3 linked regions of the Homo sapiens genome follow. The protein of the gene in region 1 interacts with the protein of each later gene in a pairwise test. Each region holds a gene or a part of one and is shown on either strand. Other genes may lie near its edges. The genes, in order: L3MBTL3, TTC19 and ASB6.

Evidence for each region.
Region 2: the proteins of L3MBTL3 (region 1) and TTC19 interact in binary tests that used the Homo sapiens proteins (3 or more experiments, as listed by UniProt).
Region 3: the proteins of L3MBTL3 (region 1) and ASB6 interact in binary tests that used the Homo sapiens proteins (3 or more experiments, as listed by UniProt).

Annotation. Positions count from the first base shown.
Region 1 is NC_000006.12:130,063,549-130,067,297, forward strand, and holds part of L3MBTL3 (lethal(3)malignant brain tumor-like protein 3), read left to right. Parts: intron 1-2,804; coding exon 2,805-2,940; intron 2,941-3,749. UniProt on the Homo sapiens protein: Is a negative regulator of Notch target genes expression, required for RBPJ-mediated transcriptional repression. It recruits KDM1A to Notch-responsive elements and promotes KDM1A-mediated H3K4me demethylation.
Region 2 is NC_000017.11:16,002,776-16,006,524, forward strand, and holds part of TTC19 (tetratricopeptide repeat protein 19, mitochondrial isoform 1 precursor), read left to right. Parts: intron 1-17; coding exon 18-56; intron 57-1,055; coding exon 1,056-1,112; intron 1,113-1,425; coding exon 1,426-1,487; intron 1,488-3,698; coding exon 3,699-3,749. UniProt on the Homo sapiens protein: Required for the preservation of the structural and functional integrity of mitochondrial respiratory complex III by allowing the physiological turnover of the Rieske protein UQCRFS1.
Region 3 is NC_000009.12:129,640,623-129,644,371, forward strand, and holds the start of ASB6 (ankyrin repeat and SOCS box protein 6), read right to left. Parts: upstream 1,530-3,749; 5' UTR 1,378-1,529; coding exon 1,265-1,377; intron 101-1,264; coding exon 1-100. UniProt on the Homo sapiens protein: Probable substrate-recognition component of a SCF-like ECS (Elongin-Cullin-SOCS-box protein) E3 ubiquitin-protein ligase complex which mediates the ubiquitination and subsequent proteasomal degradation of target proteins.

The sequences.
Region 1 (3,749 bases):
TCTGGTCACATTTTTGTCTACTGATCAGTGTGTAACCTTGTTTTATGTGTGTTTCTGTTTAAAGACACCTCATTTAATGTATATCGTTCATTCATTAAAAATTGAACTCACAAGTAAGAGCACTATCACTCCTGCCTGATGAAGCTTATCTAGCACAAGTATCTTCTCTGTAAGGCAACATCACAACCTTTTGGCACTTAGGGACACTAAACAACACCTCAGCACTATGTCAGGGGCCATTTTAAACAGTAACATCACCCAAGAAAAGCACAAAAATGTAGAATATGTGGCACTAAATGGACCACACAAAAGACACTTATTCCCAGTACGAGAACTGAAACAGGAAGGTAAAGCTCCTTCTTGATTGACTTCAGCTGGGAACATGCATGTTGAGTGACTCAAAAGTGTTGTCAGTCTGTGCATGTCCACGAACACTGCGAGTATTATTTTGGGGTTACAAATAAATTGTAGCAAGTAGATGACTTCACAAACGTGGAATACAGTATGTGAATAATGAAGACTGGCGGTATGTCATTTTTTCCTTCCCATCACCATTTACTAGACTTGGTTAGGTGGAGACAAGATGGATACCTGAAATGATAGAATGTCACCAGGCAAATATTTTGCAAAGGATATCAGGGCAGAAATTTTAAAATGTTGGCAAGAAAATGTTTTTTAAATGATTGCTAGGAAAGGAAGGCTTGGGGTGAGGAGAGCTGCTAGGGAGGAAGTAAAAGGATCAGTGTGAGACTAGAGTTTCTGTTGAGATTGAGGAAGAGGCATCTGGGGGTAACTGGGTTTGCAGACTGGAATAGGAGTATGTGTCCCAGGGTTGGATTTTTAAATTTAATACTAAGAAGCAGAGCAGTTCTTGTTGGGGACTAGATTCATGGGAGTGAGGGCTTGAAGTAGAGAGGAAGGGAGTCAAAATGCCAGGGTATTGGATAAGTCATCCATATGGATGACGAAAGTACTCAGATGGAAAGGAAGAGAATAAGCCAGGGCTAAGTGTTTGGGTGGTTAGCATGGGGGAAGAAGAGGAGGAGAGTTGCTTCAGCCATATGGCTCGAGCCTCGGCAGGGGAGAACTGGCCTAGGATCCATGGTGTGGTGGGAGGCAGCAACCCGTCCTGTGTCTATGGGAGGTAGAGTTGGGAACATGAGCACCCTTGGGGAAAGGCTTGAGAAGGACGAGCTAGGTATGACTGTGGGCAAGGAGGGTGAGGATGTAGGAGATTGTTTCTCAAAGCATAGCTTTCCGGTGAGCCTGAGATAGAGACTATGGGGAGAACAGAGAGAGCTTGGCTCAAGGGAGCAGAAGCTCAGAACGGTGTGCCCACAAGGAACTAGAGGCTGTAAATTACTATAGGGCTGAGCTCTTAGGATCGGCCAGATATAGCTGACTGTGAGAGAGAGGAGAGAAGCAGCCTTCTTTGCATGGGGTGGCTGTAGGGAGTGGGGGTAGCTCCTGCTTTACCTGAGAGATTGTATTTCCCAGGGATTCCAGTCTCAGCTGTATGGAGAGACTCTGTTCTCTCTGGGGGGAGTCAGCTTAGTTGTAAATTTGATGTATGTGGTATATCAATACATTCTAATTGAAAAAATGCTGATACATAAAAGAAAATATGAAAAGTCCATCATTCCCATTTTGCCCCTTCCTTTTCACTACCACTTCCTAGAAGAAATCATTATTAACATTTTGGCAAATATACCTCCGGACTTCTTTTTACTATGTGTTTACATATGTATGCATATGTGTGTATATTAATGTATGTATATAAATGCATATACTTATGTATATACACATAATACACATATGTATACATAATCATATACCCATAAATACATGTGGACCCCCACATGTCTAATTTTCTCATAAACTTAACTCATTCTGTGTTATGTGTTCTACCACTTGAATTTTAACTATATGTTTTAGAGAACTTTCCATGACAGTAACTGTACAGCTACCTCACTATTTGAGGATTAATTGCCCTGGCTCTGCACTCTGGTCTAAGTTCATCATTCAGGGTTCTGCAGGACAGACACTCCTGGAGCGGGTAGAGGTCTGGCGTGATACGTGTTTCTACTTGAACACATCTTCTTGTGTTAGTGGGAAGAAGTCTCAGGGGCTGAACCCTCTCTCTAAGAATCCAGGGCAGGGTATGATCCAACTCAGGTCTCGTAAGCCTATATGACCTTCTAAATCAGAATGTCTCTAAGTGGGGCCCTGTAGGCATATGTATGGCATGTGTTATACAGAGTACATTCTTACTAGCATTCTTAGGAGCCTGTCTCATCCAAGTAATAAACTAGGAGAGACGCTTTTCTTTCTTTCTTCCAACCCAGCTTTGGTGGAGAAAAAAAGCTTGACTTCTGTGCATATGCACCAGCTGTGGTCTGCAGCCTTCAGTGCAGGGCAGACTGTCCACTCTGGGGCCATGCTAGAGCTGAGTGTGCTGTGCTGGTGTGCCTTCCAGCTTACCCTGGGGACACATCTTGGTACAACATAGGGAGTGGAGAAAGGACCTGCAATTGTGGGATATTATGCTTTGCCCCCTATCCGTGTGGTTGTAATGTAACTGAGAATGTTGCCAGAATGCCACAGCTCAGCTCTTCCCACTTTAATAGCTTTTGTCTTTAGATTCTGGTTATTTGTTTAGTTGTTTTATTACTGTTAATGTGGGTGGTTTGATTAACATTAAGACTATATCATGCCTGGTGTCCATGTTTATTTTTGTGTATATATATATATATATGAATATTCTGAGTTAAAAAAAATAATTCAACCTATTTTACCTGTTTCAGGTTTGTGGATACCGGATAAAGCTTCACTTTGATGGGTATTCTGATTGCTATGACTTCTGGGTGAATGCAGACGCTCTGGATATCCACCCAGTTGGGTGGTGTGAGAAAACCGGCCACAAACTCCATCCTCCAAAAGGTTTTGTCACTTTTTGTTTGATATTTTAAATTCAGTAAAAACTCATTTTCTTACATGCTACATTAGAATTGTTAAGAATTCAGACTTTATGAAAATTCAGATAGGCACAAATTTAACCTTATTGTTTATGATGAAACCATGTTTATTAAAGTTAAAGAAATAAAAGCAGAATCCAGCCTAGGAAAATAAAGTATGTTCATATGCTTATTTTCATGTAAAATAACATTTGCATGATACTCAACTTTGACTACAAATAATGTTTACCTGCAAATTTCTATTATTAAATACATACATCTTTGAAAAAACTGATTTGAAAAATTAGTTTAAATTAGTTTATATAACTAAGTTTAGTGTTAACTGGTTTAAACTAATTTTTCAAATCAGTTTTTCATTATATAGAAAATCCTGAGAAATTATGCTTGACCGTATAGATCTTAATATTTAGGAGATTGGCAAGAAGACTGTAACACTAAAAATTGGCTTAGGTGGGGGGTTGAACTCATAGCAATTACTTTTCTTATATTTGAGTACTTTATATTATAGTCCCCCAGTGATTTTCCTATTTCATGTTTATATCAAAGTTCAAGAATAACAGATATCGTCTTTTTCACTGTCTGCCTAAAGTATTCCCTAATTTTTTTTTGAGACGGAGTCTTGCTGTGTCGCCCAGGTTGCAGTGCAGTGGTGTGATATTGGCTCACTGCAGCCACTGCCTAGCAGGTTCAAGTGATTCTCCTACCTCAGCCTCCCGAATAGCTGGGATTACAGGTGCCTGCCACCATGCCTGGCTGATTTTTGTGTTTTTATTA
Region 2 (3,749 bases), on another chromosome or scaffold:
TTGTAATTTGCTTTCAGATGGCCAACTTAGCATTTATACGGGGTCAGCTTGAAAATGTAAGTAAATTGCTTTGTAATATCTTGAATTTATGAAGGAGTAGCTTCAAGGGAACTGTAATAGTAAGAGTACAGGCTAAGCTGCTATAACAAAGAGACCCTAGAATATAGTGACTCAAACAAGATAAAAGTGTATTTCTCTTTATTGTGTTAGTCCAGAGATAGGCTAAAGACTGAAGGCAGACAGACATAGGCACCTTTGCTCTCTGATCCAGAAGTCCAGGTTTCTTCTAAGATAAGCCCTCCTCTGCCTAGGTGAGCTGACTCACCTCCAGTCTGCAGGAAGGGGGAGAAGATGGACTGTGAGCAGCTTCCTTATAAAACATGATTAGAAGTTCACGTTCTTTCTGCCTGCATCCCTTGGCCTAAATTTTATCATATGACCATATCTAACTTAAGGGTGTCCAATCTGCTAAAATTGACTGAATTTTTTTTTTAAGATAAGGTCTTGCTCTGTTGCCCAGGTTGGAGTGCGGTGGCTTAATCATGGCTGACTGCAACCTCGACCTGCCAGGCTCAGTTGATCCTCTCACCTCAGCCTCCTGAGTAGCTGGGATTCCAGGCGTGTGCCACAACACTTGGCTAATTTTCTTATTTATTTATTTATTTATTTATTTATTTATTGTAGAGACGGGATTTCACCATATTTCCCAGGCTAAATCGAGGGGACTCTGTAATCAAAAAGATGGAGAAGAGAATGACTATTAGGAGACAGTTTGTAGTCTCTGCCACAGTGGGTTTGGATAAGAACTTAATCTCTGAGGTTGTTTTCTACTCATCAGAGAGTAGTTTAAGGTACACAGAGGATGTTGAGGGTCCTGATATTTTGATCTGTTTTCGCTTCAAAAGGGTACTTTTCTGTGTGTGAGTGTGCGTGTGTGTGGGTATATGGGTTTTACAAGGAATGTTGCATCAGACTGGCACTTAGAATCCAGGGTCATATATATATATATAAAATGGGGCCCAATTAAAAGAAAAATCTTTTCCTTATGCTTTTAGGCTGAACAACTTTTTAAAGCAACAATGAGTTACCTCCTTGGAGGGGGCATGAAGCAGGTAAGGACATTGCCTAGTATTGGCCCCTCACTGAAGCAGTTTTCAAAACAGTCTTGTCTCCTGAAAACTCCTCCTAGCCCCACCACATGCTTTGGTCAGGAAAGGTGGAGTTTCCCTTCTGAGATCTCTATACAAATTGCCATTCTTTCACTAAATGCAACAGCATGCTTGCCAAGGAATTCACAGTTGGCTCATCACTCTAAAAGAATAAAGACTGTGGCTTTGAGGCCACCGTCAGTCTGGAAGTTGATCTGAAATATGCCATGAAAAAATTTACTTGTTATGAGTTCCCTTCATTCTCTTTCTCTCACAGGAGGACAATGCAATAATTGAAATTTCCCTAAAGCTGGCCAGTATCTATGCTGCGCAGAACAGGTAAGTACAGCAGCCAGGGAGTAGGACTGTGGGCAGGAAACTTTGACTCTGGGATGTTACATAATATTCATTGTCTACTGGTCATCTGGGTCTCCCAGAAATTGGGTGTCACACTCAAAGTGTTCCATCCCTCATCTTTGAAATTGTCAGTCTTTTTCCAGTTTGCCCCTACTGTTTCCATCAGCCTGCCTAGTGGGGCACACAACATCTCTGGCTGCCCTGTGACAAAACTAACTAAGTTTTCTGTTGCTGCTTGAAGTGGGAAGGGAAGTTAGAGTTAGAACTTTAGTTTAACTTTTCCTAGAAGAGGAAAGAGCAGTGTGAAAGCTGCTGGGGATAATATATTAATACTCTGAAGAAGCCATTTTGCTGGTATAAATAGAGTTCAAAGATGAAGCATCTAGGTTGTAAGCAGAGAACTCCTCTAGAGAGTTGTATTTGGGATGAATTTAGGGAGAGACCTAAGACTAGCTTCCCTTCAGGTTTTAGTGGTGCAGAAGTTGGTGCGAGAGGTTTGGAGTGACATGGAGCCTGATGCTGTAGAAAGGGTGCTCACTGAGGCCAGGCCCTGGCACTGTTCCCTACTGTCCTACTCACCAGCTCCTTTGTTCTCATCAGGACCTGCATAGTCTCCTTGCATTTTGATTGGACACTAGATAGGCTAGAGCTTCCTGGAGCCTTTGACTTCAAGTCTTTTGAGGAGCTTTGAGCTTGGCCCATGCCAGGGAACACTGCAGCTTGGTCAATCTTTCTTGGAGTTGTAACAAACATGCCTAGTTCTTGATTGGGTATGAATCCCTAGGGTAAGAAGAAGCCCAGAGCCTAATAAACATTGTTGAGTAAGACAAATTCATAGTCTTCTAGAGGTGAAAGCTAGTAACAATTAGCCTCTGAGTTACATGGTACTCTGTACTTTTCATTTTGTTTTATTAAGAGAAGCATGAGACTAGAAAAGACATGGCCAGATCTGAGGCTTCGAAAGGCTGATATAGGTTATGAGGGGAATTGTTTGTAGACCTCTTGCTCCGACTGGGAGCGTCTTCTGGGCAGTGTCCACTTGCCCTGTGTTATGGCTAGAGAGGGCCCTCTTGCCAAGTTTTGAGCGTAGGGAAGGAAGGGGATGCTTCTGTTCTTCTGAGAACAGAGCAGAACAGTAGGGTCATAAGTTCTCCCCTGGCAAAGCACTAGAGAACAGGTGAGCTTTTTAGTGCCACTTCTGTAAGAAACTAGAGCCAAAACTGAAGAAAAGAACCAAAGCTGAGCTCCTAAATGGAGAAGGGATTTCTGTCACATTTCCTCTGCATCTCTGTAAAAAGCAGCAGTCAGTCGGCCTGCTTGGGTTGACTCAACCCTCTCCAGTTGATTGAGGGTCCAGGGCTACAGAGTTGGGTTAAATGACTTCTATTGCCATAGCTAGGAGTCCCATTTCTGCAAAAGAAACTTTTATCAGAGACTTATAGCTTGAAAGAAATATAAAATGACTAAAGCTCCTCAGAAGCTGTATGAGGTCAACAGTTGGAATCCTCACTGTAGGGCGGCCTGAACTGTTTAGGGTAGTATTACTTTGAACAGGGGTAAGGCTTTCACACATGGAGAAGTTGATTCACTGGAGGCCATCTGTTAGTGGGAGATGATGAATACTGCTGGCTATGTCAGTTATTAAAATTAGGGCAGCATTCCTAGCTTTTTGTGTCCTAAGTTATATTAAATGGATGACTTAAAAAAACTGCTTTGAGAAATGGCAGATTTGACACTACTTAGACTTTAAGCAAAGTTCCCTCTTCCCATTTTACACTTCCTTTACTGATAATGTTTAAACTGAGCTGGAAAAATGAAGATAAAAAGAATTTGTGAAAAGGTAAATGGGCCGGGCGCAGTGGCTCACGCCTGTAATCCCACCACTTTGGGAGGCCGAGGTGGGTGGATCACTTAAGGTCAGGAGTTCCAGACCAGCCTGGCCAACATGGTGAAACTCTGTCTTTACCAAAAATACAAAAATTAGCTGGGCATAGTGGCGGGCACCTGTAATCCCAGCTATTCGAGAGGCTAAGGCAGGAGAATCGCTTGAACCCCGGAGGTGGAGGTTGCTCTGAGCCGAGGTCACGCCATTGCACTCCAGCCTGGGCAACAAGAGCGAAACTCCATCTCAACAGAAGGAAGAAAAAAAAAAGAAGAAAAGGTAAATGGCTGATTATTGATTTTGCTTTACAGACAGGAATTTGCTGTTGCTGGCTATGAATTCTGCATTTCAACTCTAGAGGA
Region 3 (3,749 bases), on another chromosome or scaffold:
GTTGCTCACGCCTTCCTGGTAAAAGGGAGAGTGGGCTTTCCTCTCCAGCAGCTCAGTGAGAACAAGGATTCGGCTCTCCTCGCTGGCGACATAACTGGGCCTGGGACAGGAGAGAGGCTGAGGGTAGGCACAGCTGTGGGACCGGGTGACCGCGCAGCCTGTGGGTTGGTGGGCTTTAGTCCTGCTATCATCATCAGCAAGCAGGGCCCTGGCTCTGTGGGTCACAGGGGCTTGGGGGAAGCTCTGAAGTAGAGAGAGGGCCACGCTGCATCTCTTAATACGGGAGCAGACTGGGATTTGCGGAGAATGGGCTGGGTCTGTCTGCGCTCTCCTCCCGCGTTGCCCAGAGTCCGGTCGCAGACTTAGGTACAAAGCCTCACACACCTGGGCTGCTGGGACTGAAGGGACCACCAGCCTGGAGGCCAAGAGCCCAAGCCCGACTTTGATGCTTCTTCCTCAGAAAGCCCTTCCATCCTCAAACCCGCAGGACCCCAGCCCCGGCAACACCTGCAGCCAGGACAGCAACACAGCCTCCTCCCTCCCCTCACATTGAGACCTTCAGCTGATATTGATGAAGAAAGCCTACGTTTCCACCAGAGTCCCTGGATGGCGAGACTCATCATTACCACGTGTTGGAAATACCAACTGACAACCCCCTCAACACCTGAGCCGAGCCCCTTCCTTCTGCTCTCCCCTCCCTTCCACCTCGCGTGCCGCCGTACAATTACTTGTCAGTCTCTCCTCTGGAGCACATGCGCCAAGAAGGCGGGGGTTTTGCTGAGCCACTGATGGACCCCAGGTGCCTAGTACCATGGGCAGTGAATGCAGATTCGCTCCCGACCCCTTTCCTGCAGGTCCACGACAGACCAGCTCTTGTCTATAAAAACGCAAACTCTGCTACAAAAGCCCACCTTCACACTGCTCTGGGGTAACATCTGAGGCCTCACGGATTCCACCCTGCTCCTCTGCCACGCCGGGGGGTGGCACAGGACAGGCAGGCGACAGGGTGGGGCTGAGGCGCAGGCCCTGCGACAACCCGCGGGCCTCCGCCCTCGGGCCCTCCCCGCCCTTCGTCTCCGCCATGCAAGGGGCAGGAGTGGGATCCGCGCGGGGCAGCGCGCACTCCGAGCCACGCAACCCCGGCTTCCGCCCGTCCCTTCCTCTGTCAAGGGGGACGCATCCACCCCGCCCGGCTTGTGGTGATAAAGTGGGACGCTGCGGGGTCGGAGCGGCCTCGGCCAGCTCACGGGAGGGGGTGAGTTACCGGTCCAGAGACTCCTGCCGCTCGGGGTCCTGGATCCCCAGGGAGCCCAGAATCGCATCCACCAGCGGCTGGTACTCGAAGATGATCCTCCGGAAGCCGTGCAGGAACGGCATCGCCGCGGGCCCCGCGCAGCAGGGCCGTCGCGCTTTCTGCCGAGGCCGAGATGCCCAGACGCCGACCGGAACGCTCCGGCGGCCGCGGACCCCACCTGCTCCGCCAGTCCAGCCCCTGCGCCCGGCCGGGTCCGCTCCTCAGTCCAAGCCGCGCCCCCGCCGGAAGTGACCCTCGTACTTCCTGCCCGCGCCGACTCAGGGTGGGCCATATGGCGACAGCGCCCCCTGCGGGCTCGGAGGACCTCGGCGCGTCCTGGGGCACGACCGCCAGGCCGACTCGGGCGATGTCCAGTGGGCGGCCCCAGCGGAGTGGGAGAGTGGAGGATCGAGCCAAGCCAGATCCGAGACTCAGGCGGGTCCGCCCCTTCCTGCCAGGGCCCGGCCCGGCTCGGCTTCGCCCTGCGATCCCGCCCGCGACCGCTGGGCGCCGTCCGAGTTCCGCCGGTCGTGCTCTCGGCCCTGCCGCTGCCCCACTGGCCCTGGGCGCCCCTGAGAGCTGTGGTCATCAGACACTGCCCCTTCCGGTTCGGGCTGGCCCTCGCCTTCCCTGAAGAGGGGCTGGGCCACCTCTGTCACCACCCGGCCCGCTGACTGGAATGATGAGGACCAGGGTACTCGCACGTCCCCTCCTCAGTTTCTTATTCTCTGTCCCGGGGAGCACCTGGCCAGGACGGCTGCTAGCCCTCTCCACCTCTGCCTTGATGGACTCAGTGAATCTTGTTTTTTGTTGTTGTTGTTTTTGTTTTTTTGGGGGACGTAGTCTCGCTCTGTTGCCCAGGCTGGAGTGCAATGGCACGATCTCGGCTCACTGCAACCTCCGCCTCCCGGGTTCAAGCGATTCTCCTGCCTCAGCCTCCCGAGTAGCTGGGATTACAGGCGCTGGCCACCACGCCCAGCTTATTCTTGTATTTTTAGTAGAGACAGGGTTTCACCATATTGGCCAGGCTGGTCTCGAACTCCTGACCTCGTGATCCTCCCACCTCGGCCTCCCAAAGTGCTGGGATTACAGGCATGAGCCACGGTGCCCAGCCCGAATCTTGTGTATTTTTTAGAGACAGGGTCTCACTCTGTCTCCCAGGCTGGAGTGTAGTGTAGTGATCATGACTCACTGCAGCTTTGAACCCCTGGGCTCAGGTGATCCTCCCGCCTCAGCCTCCCGAGAAGCTGGGAACACAGGAGTGTGCTACCGCCTGTCTCTGAACTTGGATTTCCTCATCTGTAAAATGGGTAGAATCCCCAGCACTTTGAGAGGCCGAGGCAGGTGGATCACCTGAGGTCAGAAGTTCGAAGCTGCAGACCGGCCTGGCCAATATGATGAAACCCTGTCTCTACTAAAAATACAAAAATTACCCGGGCGTGGTGGCAGGCGCCTGTAATCCCAGCTACTTGGGAGGCTGAGGCAGGAGAATTGCTTGAACCCGGGAGGCGGAGGTTGCAGTGAGTGGAGATCGCACCATCACACTCCAGCCTGGGCAATAAGAACGAAACTCTGTCTCAAAAAGAAAAAAAAAAAGTATAATCACACTCACCTGAGATGCTGGAGCCAGCGCACTGTAATTGTTGGTGGAAGTGGAATTCAGTGGGAAGGAGCCAAAACCCTCTGGTTCAGGAAGAAGGGGCGGAGTGGGCAGCCGGGTTTAAGCCCCTTTAGGGCAACACCAGCTTGGGCTTCCTAGAAGCAGCTCCAGGCCGCAGAGTCCACAGCTGCCAGCACGTTTCTGCCTTGGTTCTCGCTGTAGGAAAGAAATTTCTCCCTGGGTGAAATCGGGAAATTCTGCTCACATGGAAATGGACATTTCCAGCTTGCCTTGGAAAAACCACTTTTCTGGAGTCGAGGCACCTCCCCTTGGGCCATGCATTTGAGCCTCCTCTCCCACCTGGAGTCTGCGTGGGGGGGCCTTGATGCCTTCTTGCTTCTGGGAAGCTGATGATGAAGAGGGGTTTCCCGCCCCAGCAGTCCACATCACAGCGTTGGCCTCCTGGGCCTTGCTCTGCCAAGTTGGGCCCCTCTCCCTGGAACCTGCCAGACAGCGAGAGTTGCCCAGCCCAGGAAAAAAACATTTAAAGGCGCATTTCAAGACAATCCGATGGGTCTTAGAGTAAACATTTTTATATTTATTTATTTATTATTATTATTATTATTATTTTTCAGACGGAGTCTCACTCTGTTGCCTAAGCTGGAGTGCAGTGGCAGGATCTCGGCTCACTGCAACCTCCAACCCCTGGGTTCAAGCCTACCAGGTAGCTGGAATTACAGGCATGCGCTACCACGCCAGGCTAATTTTTGTATTTTTAGTAGAGACGGGGTTTCACCATGTTGGCCAGGCTATTCTCGAACTCCTGACCTCAGGTGATCCACCCGCCTCAGCCTC